Regions from separate parts of the Homo sapiens genome. Here region 2 is reported to be linked to region 1. Evidence: microRNA targets listed by miRTarBase, many of them from high-throughput screens and not tested one by one. Region 1 holds a microRNA gene; the other region holds the end of a gene's coding sequence.
What was found. Region 1 holds the annotated microRNA hsa-miR-6514-3p (CUGCCUGUUCUUCCACUCCAG, at 767-787, shown strand). A microRNA usually pairs through its seed, bases 2 to 8, with sites in the 3' UTR of a target mRNA and lowers its output. Matches are read on the target gene's strand: a 7mer-m8 pairs with bases 2 to 8, a 7mer-A1 pairs with bases 2 to 7 and ends in A, and an 8mer does both.

Region 2: the mRNA of OTUD7B is a reported target of hsa-miR-6514-3p. The part of its 3' UTR that is shown has no 7-base or 8-base seed match.

The regions. Positions count from the first base shown.
Region 1 is chr11:62,790,359-62,793,488 of GRCh38, reverse strand. It overlaps MIR6514 (microRNA 6514), which reads left to right and starts at 718; the gene lies at 718-787. It overlaps TMEM223 (transmembrane protein 223), which reads left to right and starts at 1,483. Exons shown (of 2, transcript NM_001080501.3): 1 at 1,483-1,810; 2 at 2,574-3,130. The coding sequence starts at 1,495. The coding sequence ends at 2,866. It overlaps NXF1 (nuclear RNA export factor 1), which reads left to right. Exons shown (of 21, transcript NM_006362.5): 20 at 788-848; 21 at 975-1,359. The coding sequence ends at 1,013. TMEM179B (transmembrane protein 179B) reads right to left here. Exons shown (of 5, transcript NM_199337.3): 5 at 3,089-3,130. RefSeq lists a silencer at 1,354-1,503 and an enhancer at 1,574-2,083.
Region 2 is chr1:149,941,228-149,946,789 of GRCh38, forward strand. OTUD7B (OTU deubiquitinase 7B) reads right to left here. Exons shown (of 12, transcript NM_020205.4): 12 at 1-3,838. The coding sequence ends at 2,630. Among named protein-coding and RNA genes, the nearest start is that of MTMR11, 7.1 kb to the left of the region's middle.

The DNA.
Region 1 (3,130 bases):
TTGCCCACCTAGGCCTCCCAAAGTGCTGCGGTTATAGGTGTGAGTTACTGTGCCTGGGCTCCTGAAATTTTAAAAGGCAAAACTTTTGGCTGCTTAAAAAAACCTAATAGTTGGCTGGGAGAGGTGGCTCACACCTGTAATCCCAGCACTTTGGGAGGCTGAGGCGGCCAGATCACGAGGTCAAGAGATCAAGACCATCCTGGACAACATGGTGAAATCTCGTCTCTACTAAAAATACAAAAATTAGCGGGGCTTGGCGTTCCACGCCTGTAGTCCCAACTACTCGGGAGGCTGAGGCAGGAGAATTGCTTGAACCTGGAAGGCGGAGGTTGCAGTGAGCCGAGATCACGCCACTGCACTCCAGCCTGGTGACAGAGCAAGACTCGGTCTCAAAAAAAAAAAAAAAGCAAACAGAAAAACACAAACCTGATAGTCTATAAAAAATTTGCCTGTGTATAAATTAACATAAAAAACTTTAAAGGTAAAATGGAAGTTCCTTTTCATATACTGTTCTGCAACTTAGTTTCTTTACTTACACCATGAACATCTTTCCCTACCACTGTAAAAACTATCTTGAGCTTCTTGACAGCTATTTAATATTCCTTATCTTTGAGAAGCCATTGGTAGAACATCTGGACTTTTACTAATGTCTCATTTGTATAAATAGTGCAAGGATGTATAAGAATGTACATATTTGTTGGCAAACTTGGGTGCTTTTATGGAGTGGACTTTCAGCTGGCATTTACGAGTCAGAGTTCTTACAGAGCTGCCTGTTCTTCCACTCCAGGTGCCTTCAGGACAACAACTGGGACTACACCAGATCTGCCCAGGCCTTCACTCATCTCAAGGTAAGGTCTGGAAATACAGTGGCAAAAAGACTAGGATCTCTGGGCCTCCAGGAGGTCAGGTTAGCTGAGTGGGGTTGCTGAGTGGCGAGGGTAGGCCTACCTCTACTGACCTTCATTTTTCTCCAGGCCAAGGGCGAGATCCCAGAAGTGGCATTCATGAAGTGATCGTAGTCATGCCTCAGAAGCAGTCCCCCCTGTAAATAGTCCTTGGATATTACCGTCTGGTTGTCGTCTGTCATCTCCTCCTGTCTGGCCCGAGGCCGCCCCGTGACTGTGACCGAGGGAGGGAGGGCTGCCTGATCCCTCTCCTCGCCTGCCTTCTGGAAGACTTCAGAAGATTGAGCCTCACTGGTGCCAGGAAGCCAAAGCTTACTTTGTAGAACTGACACTAAACTACCCGAAGGACTTAGGTGCTTTGTGTACTTAACCCCAGGACCTCCTTACTTTTTAATATAAAGAGTGATGTTGTATTTCGTGTTCTGCACTTTTTAATATAAAGAGTGATGTTGTATTTCGTGTTCTGCGTGCTGGATTGGTTGTCTCCTCCCAGCCCTGAGCGAGGGGGGCGGGCCCTCTAGCGGGGGCGCCCAGGGAGGGCGGAAGGCGGCTCTGCGGCAGGAAGCCCCACCCCGGAAGTCGGCTGGCCATGGCGGCGCCTTGGAGGCGATGGCCCACGGGGCTGCTAGCCGTGCTGCGGCCCCTGCTCACCTGCCGGCCCCTGCAAGGCACGACGCTGCAACGGGATGTGCTGCTCTTTGAGCATGATCGGGGCCGCTTCTTCACCATCCTCGGGCTGTTCTGCGCGGGCCAGGGCGTCTTCTGGGCTTCCATGGCTGTGGCAGCCGTGTCCCGGCCCCCGGTTCCGGTGCAGCCTCTGGATGCGGAGGTCCCAAATCGTGGCCCCTTCGACCTGCGCTCCGCGCTCTGGCGCTACGGTCTGGCCGTCGGCTGCGGCGCCATCGGTAAGACGTGGGCTGGCTTCCCACTGTGACAACGTGGGGTGGCGGGACACGACCTTCCCTATACAGGCAGGGAGAGTCAGGGACTCCCTATCCGAGAGTGGCGGGCGGGCTTTACCCCACAGAAATGTGAAACACTGGCCGGGCGCGGCGGCTCAAATGCTGGGAGGCCGGAGGCGGGCGGATCACTAGGTCAGGACATCCAGACCATCCTGGCTAACACCGTCAAACCCTGTGTCTACTAAAAATACAAAAAATTAGCTGGGCGTGGTAGCAAGCGCCTGTAGTCCCAGCTACTCGGGAGGCTGAGGCAGGAGAATCAATTGAACCTGGGAGGCGGAGGTTGCAGTGAGCCGAGATGACGCCACTGCACTCCAGCCTAAGCGACCGAGCGAGACTCCCCTCTCAAAAAAAAAAATTGGGAAACAGTGATGTCTCCGAGCGCCGTGCCCTGTCATAGCCTAGGCTGAGGGCTGCCCTTCACTCTGCGACCTTGAGCAAGGTCCTTAAAGCTCTCCATCTTCCCATTAAAATGGAAACGGACATCTATTAAGGTTGTTGGGAGGAATAACAAGATTACTGGGTATAACAGGAGCTCAGTACTGCACTCCAGCCTGGCCGGCAGAGTGAGACTCAGTCTCAAAAAAAAAAGCGCTCAGTAAATACTACTTTCATCCCACAAATTTCTTATTCAGAGGGCACTGGAAAGGTCGGTACTTAGATGCCCAGTGAAAACCCCTCACCCCAATCTCTGCCCTGCCTGCAGGAGCCCTCGTACTCGGTGCTGGTCTTCTCTTCTCTCTCCGGTCTGTGCGCTCAGTGGTGCTTCGAGCTGGAGGGCAGCAGGTGACCCTCACCACTCATGCCCCCTTTGGCTTGGGGGCCCATTTCACAGTTCCTTTGAAGCAGGTATCTTGCATGGCCCACCGGGGTGAAGTCCCTGCCATGCTACCTCTGAAAGTCAAAGGCCGACGCTTCTATTTCCTCTTGGACAAAACTGGACACTTCCCTAACACAAAACTCTTTGACAATACTGTGGGTGCCTACCGGAGCTTGTGAAGAAATGACCTCAAGTCACTCACCTCTCCAAGAGGAGGATAAAAACTGAACCTTGGGGAGCCAGGTGTGTTGGTTCACACCTGTTGTAATCCCAGCACTTTGGGAGGGTGAGGCAGGAGCACTGCTCGAGCCCAGGCTGGGCAACATAGCGAGACCTTGTCTCTATTTACAAAAAAAAAAACAAAAAAAAACGCCAATCTTAGAATGGAGTAACAACCAGGGTCACACAAGGAGGTCAAGATTCATTAACAACAAATAAAGGAG
Region 2 (5,562 bases), not on the chromosome of region 1:
GAATCTAACAACAGATCAAATCCAAACACAGCAGTCCAGTGGAGAATCAAAACTTTTCCGGCTTTATTCTCTGGGAAAACCCCTGGTCTGTTTTCATTCCTATTGGTCCAGGCCACCATTCTATGATATGAAGGCCTAAATTAGGAAAGCTAGGTGAGCTGTGCAAATTCAGGGTGTCTGAGCCACCTGTTGTTTGGTGTGTGATGGGGGTGGAGGCGCACACAGTGGTGTTCTCGCTAGTGTTCAAATCACAGAAACAGGGACGTAACTAGGGTGAGGTGAGCAAAGCACTCACCTTGGGCACAAAATTTAAGGAGTGCCAAAAAACCCAGTAACCAAGATAAATACTATTTTAATGCAACATTTTTAAAAAATCACAATTAATGTAAAAAGTCTATGATGGACAATGTATCAAAAATTTAAATAAGAAGGATTCATCCCCATACTTATTCAATTCAGCCTCACTTCCCTCCTCCTAATCTCAGTCCTGTCAGATCCTGTAAGATTTCGCTATTTTATCCAACATAAATTTTTTGCATTAATTTTTTTAAATACTGCATTTTTTATAGTATCTTGATTAATGAGTTTTATAGTAACCCTTAAATTTTGCAACTTAGGGGAGTGCTCATCTCATACCAGGTTCCAGACCTGCCTAGACATATACACATCCCTTCCTTTGGAATCTCACTGCTTCCTTAACACAAATCTATTTTCAAAGAAAACCCTAAGAATTAATAGCCATAGGAAATTATTAAATCAGATTTGGAAAATAGGTGACTTCTGAGTTTGTTGAGGAGAAAATAACCTTTATAAACCGTGAGCATTTCCAACAAGGACAATCTTGACTGGCTACCGAGGAGGAAAACACACACACATATGCACGCACGCACATGCATGCACGCTCAAGTGCTTTAGATCAAATGTGGGGATTACGTTCCAAGGGATGGGTTATGAGTACATACCTCAAAAGAGAAATCCAAACACAGAAAAACAGCCCCAGTTAATACTCTGGACACATAAGTACACTTATTCCCCTTCTTCACATGCACCCGGGAGTGTATACAATTGCATAGTTGACTTTTTTTCCCGGAAAAAAATATAAAGAAAAAGGAAAATTGGCCCAGGATAGGTCTTCCGGTTTAAAGCTCTTAGAAATGGCTCTGGCCAGAGCATAGGCTGTTCAGACTTGTGCTTTGTGCAAAATGCGAAGGAGCTCCCCCTACTGTGTCCGCATCCCCACTCCCAGCCCCTAGAGAACAGGGAAGGGTCAGGGAAAGGGAGAAACCTAAAGACAGATCAGCTCATTGGGAGTCATCTGTGCTCTGTGGTTATAGTTCACTAAAATATATTTCTCTAACTACCTTTTTATAAATTGCCCCTATATGTTTCAACATCAGTCCTAATATCAAAAATATCTCTTCTTAGAAAGTATTTTTAATTATTTTAATAAACTAACCACAGATTAAGGTCAGCTATGGCTTAACAAAAGAAGCCGGGATGTTAAGTTCATTCTCCAAAAGTAGAGCAAAGGGAGAAAGAACCACTTAAGTAGGAGGAAAAAAAATCATTTTTTAAATGTTTTTGCTTGCTGGGGTCTTTTTATTTCTTTTCCTTAAAAAAAAAAGTCAATAAAATAAGTTGCTTTCTACAGAAACGCAGCAGCCACAGAGGCCTGTAATGCTCTACTTAGGTTTTTGGTTTTGTTTGAAACAGCCTCTGGCTAAAATGTCTGTCCTCCCACCCCTCCCAAGGTGCACTCAAACCCCAACGTATGGTTATTGCTGTGGTTAAAAAATAGATCAGCTCTGCCCCAATTCACCTGGAGAAAATGCAACACACATGACGGCTGTTCTCACCACACTCTTCCCTTTAAACAAATACAATTAAAGACTTAGATGAGGAAAAGACAGGGGGTAATCAGCAATCTCTTCTCAAACTGTAACAGATGACATATGACTGCTTGGAAGGAAATAAACCTTAAGAGGAAAAGGATTTCCCTCTTAAGTTCCTCCCTTTCCCATCTAAACAAACGGATTTAAACTACCCCCACCTCCTAACAGGCACCCATGAGGACACATTACTGCCTTGTCTTTCCAGATCCTTCAAGGGGAAGAATTTATCCAACCTTAATTTCTAGCTTAATTCAAATCAATAGCAAATGTGTCCAATTTCCCACTTCCCCTCCACACTTCTCACTCCACCATGTGCTTTTTCCCAACCTAAAGAACTTTGGTTTTATTGACTGAGAACCTCCTTTGCCCATTCCTCCCCAAGACTTCTGCCCACCTCCCACCCCCACACACCAAACCTTCCCCTGCTACTTTCTCTTAGGTCCCTGGATGGGACCCAGGAGGTTATAAGACAGAATCGCCATCTTTTCCCCTTGTACCTCAAACCTCATCAAGTCAAGCTCTGCAGAGGAATAGTACAGCCCCTGAGGTGCCATCCAGCCCCGACCTGCTCTTGCCAGCCTGGCAGCACTCCTGTGTGCACACACTTAAAAGTTTCCAGCCAGGCTCCCACAAACATTACTGCATTTTCCCCCTCAACATGGGGACTGTGTTCTTGATGAGCCAATTAGTTGAGCTTAACTTTGTTTAGCCTCCTTGCCCTTCAGTGTTCCACCCGTTCAGAACCTGTGCACCAGGAGCTCCCCATCCGGTTCCCGCTCCCTCCTCCTCAGTTCTTCCCTGTAACAACAGGAACAGAAGTTGTTTGTCTCAGGGTGTCCATAGAAGCTGCAGTTCGGTTGTTTGCATTTGGTCTGAGTTGGGGGAAGGCCCCGGAGACCTCCAGCCCATCCATCTGGCTCAGGGGGCTCTCTGTAGCCATTGCTATAGGAATCAGCCACTCGGTAGGGGGGTGGTAACAAGGCACCCCTGTGAAGTCCATCCTTAGAGTGGCTGCCTGGCTCCAGAGAAGGGATGCTGTCCTGGTGGGGGTAGGGTCGCCCAGGAGGGCACTGTCTGGGGAAGGTGGCATATGGTGGTAGGCCCCCGACACATGGACCCCCTGCCAACTGCCTCCGGGGTTCCTGGCAGTGGACTCCGCCCCCAGACGGCCGAGGGATAGTAAAGTCCCCAGGGTAGCCAGTGGAAAATGCCATTGCCCTGGACTCTGCTGGGGGACCGGTCGGCTGCTCTTCCCTAGCATCTGGCTCTGGCTTTTTGGCTGGAGGAGGGCCACCCCCTATTCCTCCATTCATGATCTTCCTCTCTGCCTCCTTCTGCTTCTGTTCTGCCAGGAATCTCTCCTCAGCATCAGAAAGGTAGCGCTGGATCATTTCCTCCTGATACTGGTGACGGTGACCCATCTTCAGGGTTCCAACAAAAATAAACTTCCCCTCCCCTTGCATGGCAGTCCTCAGAATGCTCAGGCTCTGCATCACCTCCTGGCTATACTTGCTCCCTCCGTTACCAACAGACTCAGCTGGGGGCTTCTCAGACACAGGCCCATCCCCAGCTGCCTCCTCCTTGCCACCCTTCCAGCTCTTCAGTGAGTTTTTCTTCTTCTTCTCCAGTGTCTCAGTGCCGCTGCTTCCTCCCAACCCTGTCCCCACCCCTCCAGGCTTTGAACCCTTGCTGTGCATCAGGCCCCCCATGTTCTTCTTGAGCTTGCTGCCCAAGGTTTTGCCAAAGCTGCCCAGTTTGTTAGCCACAGAATCTGCTCTCTTCTTGTCCTTCTCCCGATCTCGCTTTGACTTCTCCTTCCGCCGGCCGCCCTCGTTGCTGGTGGAACTGCTGCCAACTGACTCCTTGTCTGAGTCTCCAGACTCAGGAGTGGACCGGGGCTCATCTCCAGCTGAGGCGGTGGGGGACTCAGGCTGGGCCAGAGGAGCCTGGAAGAGACAAGAACACTGTTGACAGTTATCCCAGCAGCCTGGGGTGGGGGAATCCCCCAGGGACCTCTAGCCCATCCATCTGGCTCAGGGAGCTCCCTGCAGCCATGGCTATAGAAATTAGCCAGGTAGAAAAGGATGGACACCTATGAACTCCGTCCTCTGAGTGATTGCCTAGTGACTGCCTTGCTCCAGAGAAGGGCTTCTGTCATGATGAGGGAAGGGTCACCCAGGATGGCACTGTCCTTCCTGGGTTCCAGTCAGTCAGCTTTCTCCCCCACTGCAATCTGACTCCCTTCTGTAATAAGGAGATAGTAGAATAAAGCCTTACTGTTCATTTAGAACAATGAGCAACCATATGATACGTGGCTTCCGGGTGAGAGGCCCAGACATTAGAATGTTCTTTATTATACATTTCTCTATGCCAAATTCTGCTCGAAACTAATCTCAAGAAAGTCTTGACTAATCAAAACTAACCAAGTCTAGCCACTTTGCATCCCCTCAACTTTTATACATTCTGCATTGGAGTTATCAATTTGACCCTACTCCTGTGCTCCTGTTCTAACTCAGAGCCCACTGAATTAGGAGCTCTTTAAGCTACTCCGTCTCCTAGTGCCCAAAACAGAGGTCTATCTACAGAAGACTTTGGACGAAATAATGATCATCTCAAGTTCAACAAACAGTCCAGAAAACCTTTCTTAAAGAATATGTTAAGCCAGGCACGGTGGCTCATGCCTGTAATCCCAGCACTTTGGGAGGCCGAGGTGGGTGGATCACCTGAGGTCGGGAGTTCCAGACCAGCCTGACCAACATGGAGAAACCCCATCTCTACTAAAAATACAAAATTAGCCGGACGTGGTGGTGCATGTCTGTAATCCCAGCTACTCAGGAGGCTGAGGCAGGAGAATCGCTTGAACCCAGGAGGCGGAGGTTGCAATAAGCTGAGATCGCACCATTGCACTCCAGCCTGGGCAAAAAGAGTGAAACTCCATCTCAAAGAAAAATAATAATAATAATAATAATATGTTTTAGGTCAGGCGCGGTGGCTCACGCCTGTAATCCCAGCACTTTCGGGGGCCAAGGCAGGCGGATCACAAGACCAGCCTGGCCAACATGGCGAAACCCCATCTCTACTAAAAATAGAAAAATTAGCTGGACATGGTGGCGGGCACCTGCAATCTCAGCTACTCGGGAGGCTGAGGCAGGAGAATCGCTTGAACCCAAGAGGTGGAGGTTGCAGTGAGCTGAGATCGTGTCATTGCACTCCAGCCTGGGCATCAAGAGCAAGATTCCGTCTCAAAAAATATATATATGTTTTAGTATCAGATAACAGAGACTGGCTGGAGAGGAGATGTGGAAAACAGGAGACTAACGGTTTTTAAAAAGCAGGAAAGGGCTGGGTGTGGTGGCTCATGCCTGTAATCCCAGAACTTTGGGAGGCCAAGGTGGGTGGATCACCTGAGGTCAGGAGTTCGAGACTAGCCTGGCCAACGTGGTGAAACTCCGTCTCTACTAAAAATACAAAAATCAGCCGGGTGTGGTGGCGCACGTCTGTAATCCCAGCTACTCGTGAGGCTGATGCAGGAGAATCACTTGAACCTGGGAAGTGGAGGTTGCTGTGAGCCAAGATTGTGCCACTGCATTTCAGCCTGGCTGACAGAGCAAGACTTCCTCTGAAAAAAAAAAAAAAAAAAAGGACAGGAAAGGCCAGGCGCGGTGGCTCA